Linked DNA regions of Homo sapiens: all the other regions are linked to region 1. Evidence: fine-mapped expression QTL. A gene starts in region 1. Each other region holds a variant in brackets. All regions are shown on one strand. Distances are from middle to middle.

Region 1 (2,762 bases):
TCCGGGTCAGGCCCAGTTTCTCCTGGATCTCGTGGGGTTTCATGGCATCGGGCAGGTCCTGCTTGTTGGCGAAGATGAGGATTATGGCGTCCCTCATCTCCCGGTCATTGATAATGCGGTGCAGCTCCTGGCGAGCCTCATCGATGCGGTCGCGGTCGGCGCAGTCCACTACGAAGATGAGACCTTGGGTCCCAGTGTAGTAATGCCGCCAGAGCGGCCGGATCTTGTCCTGGCCGCCCACATCCCATACGTTGAACTTGACATTTTTGTAAGTCACCGTCTCCACGTTGAAACCCACAGTGGGAATGGTGGTCACCGACTGGCCCAGCTTCAACTTGTACAGGATTGTTGTCTTGCCGGCCGCGTCCAGGCCCAACATGAGGATCCGCATTTCCTTGTTCCCGAAGATTTTGGATAGCACCTTCCCCATCGCGTCGGAGGAGCCGGGGCCGGGGGCATTCAGGTGTCCCGGGTCCCCTCAGCCAACAACGCCGCCGCCGCCGCGAAACCGAAACGAAGCCTCTCGGCCGCGAGAGCGCCTTTGCGGCCTGCGTGGGAGTTGCCTCCTAAGGGCAGAGGCCCAGGCCCCCCGCTCACTCGGGCATCACCGACCGCACAACTTGATTTCTCCAGTCGCCGCCGCCACCCGGGCCCTGAGACTGCGCTGGGAGCCGCCGCCCTGCTGAGGCGCGGCCCGGCCCGGAACTGCCCTTCCCCCCGCAGGCGCCGCGCGAGCGCCGCCGCGGTTCCCGCTCCTCCGCCTTCCTCTCACCGCGAGGGAGACTGCAGCCCTCCGGCCCGCCCGCCGGCCTGCGAGCACTGGGCTCCCCACCGACCCAGGACACCCGAGAGGCAGCGCGGCTCCGGGGCCCCGTCAGGTCATGGATCCTCGCGGGAACTCGGTGCGCTGCCTGCAGAGAAACAGAGAGGGAGGGGAGTTACTGCCAGAGCTCCACAAAGGAGCGAAGACCGAGGTGGCCCGCCTTTCCAGCTCGGCCCAAGGGGTTACCTCCAGCCGCCGCCCCGAGCGCGGGCTCCCTCCGGCCTCCAACTCCTCCTCCCAGTTCTGCCGCCGCCGCTGCCGGAAAAGGCGCCGAGGAAACCGCCTCACTTCCCCTCCCGACCACGCAGGCGCAGCAGAGGCCGACCGTTCGGACAAGAGCGACCTCTGTAAGGAGAGCGGCCCGCGCGCCTAGCGTCATGGGCGCCACGCGCCGGAGGGGCGGGGCTACGGCGCCTCGGAGGGCTCGCAGATGCGGCCGGCCCAGAGCCCTCGAACCTCGGACTCTGACTCGCGCCTACCCGTGGCTCTTCTAGCGTCTCCTTCCCTGCTTTTCTCTTTTGCGCTCTGCCCTCCCCTGCCCACCCGAACCAAGGGAGCAGATCTACTGGGGGGCCCTACAGGGTGGGGCCCACGGGCAGCCCGCTCTCTCCACGAACCGAGCTGCCTCCAGGCCTGTTCCCAGACCTCGGTGCCCGCCAGATGCTCTGCGAATTCCCTCCGCCCGCCCCAGCCTTCCCGCACCCTCCGCGCTCCCTGAACGTCCCAGGGAAGCTCTGTTCGCTTTTGTTTTTTTTTTTTTTCCCTTTTTCGCAACCCCTTCTTGGCTTCCTTTATCCCTTGAATTTTGTATGTTTCCTGAAAGACACGTGGGAGGCCAGTGTCTCGTGTGGAATCTGCCAGTCAGTGCAGCGCTTTCCCGGAGTTGAGTTTACTCTGCAGCTCTTTTGAATGTTTGAGCCCTGTCTGCCTATAGGTCTCGTCAAGACCAGCCCATGTTTCTTAAAAACTGCAGTATTATGAAGAGTTCCTGTGCCTTGCCGCGTTTTCACCTTTTTAGAATGCGACATCTGTTCATCTTTAAAATATCATTTTATCTCATACTGTTAGTAGTAGCTTCTTAACTACTACCCATTCTTAACTTTAAGAAGCATAGAATTTAGAATATAGAACGACCGCTTGTATGGCCTGGATCTGGGCACTTAACCTTACTAAGTTTATCTCGTGTAAACTGACCTTGCTAACTCACGTGAGGCTTAAATAATACAATGTGGAAGACTTCAGGGCACATTTTTGGTTTTTTGGTTTTTGTTTGTTTCTTGAGACGGGGTCTCACTCTGTCGCCCAGGCTGGAGTCCAGTTGCACAATCTCGGCTCACTGCAGCCTCCTCATCCTGGGTTCAAGCAGTTCTGCCTTAGCCTCCGGAGCAGCTGGAATTAGGTCGCCCACCACCACGCCCGGCTAATTTTTGTATTTTTAGTAGAGACGGGGTTTCACCATGTTGGCCAGGCTGGTCTCGAAGTCCTGACCTCAGGTGATCCACCCGCCTCGGCCCCCCAAAATGCTGGGATTACAGGCGTGAGCCACTGCGCCCTGCCAAGGACACATTTTTGTATCAAATGGTTAATGATAAAATTAGACTTAAAATAACGTGAAACCTTCAAATATCAAGGGGAGAAAAACAGGAAATGGGTATCTTTGTTTAAAAAGCAAGATGCTATAAACAGCATATGGTAACATACTGTTTTTATTAAACAAATTTAAAATATTAGATAATGGTAGATAGGTTATATGATAACCTTATAAACGTCATTTCAGTCGGAAATAAACTTATTAAACATTAATATTCTAACAATTATTTCATTTACTTTCCATTTACCTTAAGATGAAGCACTGTCATAAAACTGAAAAGCTTAGGAGTCTGAAGATTGGGGTTCAAGTGTCATCCCCAACCCCACCTCTCTATTTTTGGGACAAGGT
Region 2 (2,762 bases), 74 kb before region 1:
ACTACAGGCGTGAGCCACTGCACCCGGCCTATACACCTTTTCTGTATTTTTATTTTTAAAAGTTCCCAAAATTGAAATGGTCAGTAGGCCACTGCAACCAGCCTATACACCTTTTCTCTATTTTTATTTTTAAAAGTTCCAAAAATTGAAATGGTCAGTAGGCCACTGCAACCAGCCTATACACCTTTTCTGTATTTTTATTTCTAAAAGTTCCAAAAATTGAAATGGTCAATAGGCATATGATAAAATGAACAATCTAACTGGTAAATCCAGGAAATGCAATTTAAAATGACACTGTTTTTTCTGCACATGACGCTGGCAGTTTTAACAAAATGATTATGTCCAACGCTGATGAGTATAATGGTGGCTATAAAAATCAGAACAGAATTTTGGGGGAGAAACTCAATATTATTTACAAAAATTTTAAATGTGCATGCCCTTTGATCCAGAAATTCCACTTCTAGAAATAATATCCTTCAGAAACACTCATACATACACACACCCATTTGTGTATAAGAACATTTGTTGCAGCATTGTTTGTAATGGTGAAAAATGGAAAACCACCTATGTGATCCTTTGCTAAAATAGTGGGTAAAGAAACTATGATACATCTAGAAGGAATGCAACAGTTAAAATGGGGGATGCCTATATGCACTAACACAGAAAGAGCTACAGGGAATGTTGTTAAGTAAAAGAAAAAAGTAAGTCAGAGAACAGAACATGTCATGTGATCGTTTATGCATAAATGACCTGAATGGGCCGGGTGTGGTGGCTTACACCTGTAATCCCAGCACTTTGGGAGGCCGAGGTGAGCAGATAACGAGATCAAGTCCATCCTGGCCAACATGGTGAAACCGCGTCTCTACTAAAAACACAAAAATTAGCTCAGCGTGGTGGCGCGCACCTGTAGTCCCAGCTACTCGGGAAGCTGAAAGCTGAAGCAGGAGAATTGCTTGAATCCAGAAGGCAGAGGTTGCAGTGAGCTGAGATTGTGCCACTGCACTCCAGCCTGGGTGACAGAGGAAGACTCCGTTTAAAAAAAAAAAAAAAAAAAGACCTGAATGTCCTTAAAACATTAAAACCACACACACAAAAAATTAAAACAACGGAAAATATCTGATGT[G/A]GTTCATTTATCTAAATACTTCACAAATCCTAAGACAAATAAATTTAACTTCTCTCTTGAGAAGTTATATGCACTGTATAAGAATTCTCTGGAACTGTCTCTCTACACCAAACCTGAAAGGACTGCACCACAATGGGAAGGAACTATTTCTTGTTCCACAGCCTCCTAGAAGAGTCTCAGTGTCTCCTCAGAAATGCCAGCTCCCACACGGGCCTGAGCAATAGCTCATGGAGTCTCTCCAGACCTTTGTGCTTCTGAGGCACTTTTCAATAATTAACTAATCTGCCTAAAGGGTGGGGCGGGCTATGGCTCCCACAGACTCAGCACTCCCTTCAGCCAGCTGCCCTCTGGAATGCAAAGGCATCCATCCCCTAGGAATGGCTGTTGGTCAATCCCTGCCCCACCACAGCCCCCAAACTCAGGAGGGTGAAAGGGCCAGGGCAGGAAAGCAACTTCCCCTCTCAGATGTTCTCCTGGAGAAATTATATTACTCTCGCCTACCTCCACCTCTCCTCTGTCATGCTCCTCCAGCATCTGAAAAAGAACGTTCCAACAGGCAGCAGGACAAATTACATGTCAATGCTGTCAGTTTCAATGCTGCCCTTTGTTGCTCCAGGTCCTATGAACCACAGAAAAATGTATAGGTCCTTTCCATTTTTTTTTTCTTTCTGGCACAAATAAAATAAACAGCAGAAGCAGTTTCTATTTCAGTATTTTCAAAGGGATGGTGTCTGGAGGAATGGTTCCCAATCTTTGGAATTTAACAAACCATTAAAATTTTGAAAACCTTTTGAGAGACTAACATAGGACTGCTCACTTCTATTTTGCCAAGCACAGACACTTAAAAAACAACCTGAATTATTGTCACCATCATTTTATGGTGGGAGATGATTGGACACTTTAACCCCAAAACAATGTAATCATGACAATCTCAGATTTTAAAACAGGACTTCAAATTTAATACACTCAGATGCATGAGAAATACACATGTATTTCACGTAGACTGGTGAACACTTCCTTACAGACGCACCAGCCCCTTGGAAAGAACTGGCAGAGACTAAATCATAAGTTTCCAAACCTGACTATGCCTGAGAAAGATAGGAAGGCATTAAAAATAATAATAATAATAATACAGATTCCAGATTCCCACCCCATCCATATTTACTGTATCACCTTCTGAGGATTTCTTGAGACGGAGTTTTGCTCTGTCACTCGGGCTGGAGCGCAATGGCACTATCTCGGCTCACTGCAACCTCTGCCACCCAGGTTCAGGTGATTCTTCTGCCTCAGCCTCCAGAGTAGCTGGGATTACAGGCACCCACCATCATGCCAGGCTAATTTTTGTATCTCTGTAGAGAAGGGGTTTCACCATGTTGGCCAGGCTGGTCTTGAACTCCTGACCTCAGGTGATCCACCTGCCTCGGCCTCCCAAAGTGCCGGGATTACAGGCGTGAGCCACCTCGCCCGGCCGCCTCTGAGGCTTTCTAAGGGTGGGGCCCTGGAATGTGTATTTAAAACTTTTTTTTACTATGGTGAAATATACATAATATAAAATTTACCACTTTAACCATTTTAAGTGTACAATTCAGTGGCAATAAGGACATTTACAATGCTGTATGTAACTTTTCATCATCCCAAA
Region 3 (2,762 bases), 90 kb before region 1:
AGGTAGGAGAATTGCTTGAACCTGGGAGGCGGAGGTTGCAGTGAGCCGAGATTGCACCATTGCACTCCAGCCTGGGCGACTGAGTGAGACTCCATCAAAAGAAGGAAAGAAAGAGAGAAAGAGAGGAAAGAAGGAAGGAAGGGAGGGAGGGAGGGAGGAAGGGAAGGAGCGAGCCAGGTACAAAAGGACAAATATTGTGTGATTCAATTTATGTGAGGTATCTAGAGCAGGCAAATTCATAGAGGCAGAAAGTAGAATGGTGGTTACCAGGAGATAAGGCATGAGAGAATAGGGAATTATTGCTTATTGGGTACAGAGTTTCTGTTTGGGATGATGCAAAAATCCTGGAAATAGATAATGGTGACAGTTGGGCAATATTAAGTGAATTGTGAATGTACTTAAGGCCACTGAATTGTACACTTAAAAATGGCTGGTCAGGCACGGTGGCTCATGCCTGTAATCCCAGCACTTTGGGAGGCCGAGGTGGGCAGACCACGGGGACAGGAATTCGAGACCAGCCTAGCCAATATGGTGAAACCCTGTCTCTATTAAAAATACAAAAATTAGCTGGATGTGGTGGCAGGTGCCTGTAGTCCCAGCTGCTCAGGAGGCTGAGGCAGTAGAATATCTTGAACCCAGGAAGCAGGGGTTGCAGTGAGCCAAGGTCGTGCCACTGCACTCCAGCCTGGGCAACAGAGCAAGACTTCGTCTCCAAAAAAAAAAAAAAAAAAAAGTTAAAATGGGCCGGATGCAGTGGCAGTGGCCACACCTATAAACCCAGCACTTTGGGAGGCTGAGGCGGGCAGATCACCTGAGGTTGGGAGTTCAAGACCAGCCTGGCCAACATGGCGAAACCCCATCTCTACTAAAAATACAAAAATTAGCTGGGCGTGGTGGCCATGCCTATAATCCCAGCTACTTGGAAGCCTGAGGCACGAGAATCTCTTGAACCCCGGGAGACAGAGGTTGCAGTGAGCCGAGATCATGCCACTGCACTCCAGCCTGGGCAACAGAGTAAGACTCTGTCTCAAAAAAAAAAAAAAAAAAAAAAAAAAGCTAAAATGGTAACTTATATTACATATGTTTTACAACAATTTTTAAAAATCTATGAAACAAATGAAACCAAAAAAGTGGGTTTTGTTTGTTTGTGTTAGGAAGAAAAAATAGAACAGTTT[G/T]TAAATTTTGTTTGTGGGTTTTGTTTTGTCTTTGCTTTCTTTAATCCCAACCTGCCCATGCCGTGTAGCGGGGTGACTAAGACCCCCCCATGAAATTACAGAAGGCTTTCGGGCTGCGGGTTTGGGTGGCTTTGTGCCTCAGGAGATCCTACGTCATTTAGAAAGATTTCTACTTTGGCAATTTTGTTCCAATTCTTCAACTCTCAGGAATGTGTAGCATGGAAGCTTCCCCCCACTGCCCCCCAAGCCTATGTTGGGTCAGAATTTGTTTGTGAAAATATTATTTTAGGATTCCTTCCACTTCTGTCATCTGCTTATTTTCCTTCCTGCATATTTCATAACGTAGCAGAGCGATTTCTGATTCAGCAGTTAAAATAGTCTGTGCATTCGTTATCACTTCCTTGTGACCCACTTTATGCACAATTACTCATTTCGTCATTGAAAGTTTAGATTTCAAAAAAAAAAAATTCTGGGACTAAAGTATGTGTCTACGGAGAAAAGGAGGGGAAGAGATATTGACTGAATATCTATTCTAGCACTCAAAGGAACCCCAAGGGTGGGCACTGTGGATCAACCCTGAGGTTTCCCATCTCACCGCTCTTCTCTCAAATTATATCCTCTTCAGTTGTTCCACACTCTTAACCCCACCTTTACACTCTCCTTACTCTCATTTTCTTCCTAGGAAATACCTCTGTACACTCACCAGACACTGGCTGCTGGTTGTCACGGTGCTAAGAGCTGTGGGAAACATGAAGAGCAATGAGACCAGGTCCCTGCTCTGAGGAGACGTGTGCCAGCGAAGTTTCTCTCCCACGTGAGTGTGCTACAAGAAAATCTGAACCCGAGAATCTGATTCAGTAGGTCTGCACTTTCTCCACTTTGCCAGATAATTCTGATTGAGACCGTCAAGGCTGTGACTAGTGGGGAGGCAGTAGAGTATTTTCTGTGCTAGACTGAGGCAGCCCTGAAGCACTGCGCAAGCACATGGAAAAGAGAAACGAGATTGGGCCGGGCACGGTGGCTCATGCCTGGAATCTTTGGGAGGCCACGGATCACTTGAGGACAGGGGTTTGAGACCAGCTTGGCCAACATGGTGAAACCTTGTCCCTACTAAAAATACAAAAATTAGCAGGGAGTGGTGGTGCACACCTGTAATCCCAGCTACTCTGGAGGCTGAGGCAAAAGAATCGCTTGAACCCGGGAGGTGGAGGTTGCAGTGAGCTGAGATTGGACCACTGCCCTCCAGCCTGGGTGATAGAGTGAGACTCCATCTCTAAATAAATAAATACAAATAAAAGAAAGACAAGATTGGTCTAACAGATGATGGAAGGCTTCATGGAAGGGGAAATTAAGCAGATGGGAGGCCCAGCAGGCACTGTACCTGCTGCTGCTCAGCACTGGATGTGAGGGCAAGACTTTGAGTCACATTCCTCCCCATACCCCAGGGCCTTTAGAGCATATGTAGAGGACAGGAAACTTGGGACAAGGGGGTACACTCACTTCTGAGACGGTCCAGATGGATGATACCTTATCCTGGGGTACCTGCTGCACAGAGTTCCAGTTCCAGACTAACCTGCTAGCAGAGGT

Which allele goes with the higher level. Alleles are on the strand shown, and positions count from the first base shown. SD is a standard deviation of normalised expression in the study named. Not every link is listed here.
As copies of G replace T in region 3, the expression in fibroblasts of the gene that starts at base 1,085 in region 1 goes up (small effect, 0.15 SD a copy in GTEx).

What was found. PIP is the estimated chance that this variant, and not a neighbour inherited with it, causes the effect.
Region 2: its variant is the best candidate, but not a certain one, in a credible set for the expression of ARF6 in whole blood (INTERVAL, PIP 0.71).
Region 3: its variant is the best candidate, but not a certain one, in a credible set for the expression of ARF6 in fibroblasts (GTEx, PIP 0.90).

Annotation. Positions count from the first base shown.
Region 1 is chr14:49,891,405-49,894,166 of GRCh38, reverse strand. ARF6 (ARF GTPase 6) reads right to left here and starts at 1,085. Exons shown (of 2, transcript NM_001663.4): 1 at 1,010-1,085; 2 at 1-911. The coding sequence starts at 430. RefSeq lists enhancers at 156-205, 236-555, 1,426-1,525 and silencers at 716-905, 946-1,335.
Region 2 is chr14:49,965,284-49,968,045 of GRCh38, reverse strand. MIR6076 (microRNA 6076) reads right to left here and starts at 1,647; the gene lies at 1,535-1,647. The variant G/A (reference allele first, on the strand shown) is at 1,124.
Region 3 is chr14:49,981,400-49,984,161 of GRCh38, reverse strand. LINC01588 (long intergenic non-protein coding RNA 1588) reads left to right here. Exons shown (of 4, transcript NR_126498.1): 4 at 1,858-2,493. The region is part of intron 1 of LOC105370485 (a long non-coding RNA gene); the gene reads right to left. Among named protein-coding and RNA genes, the nearest start is that of MIR6076, 16 kb to the right of the region's middle. The variant G/T (reference allele first, on the strand shown) is at 1,176.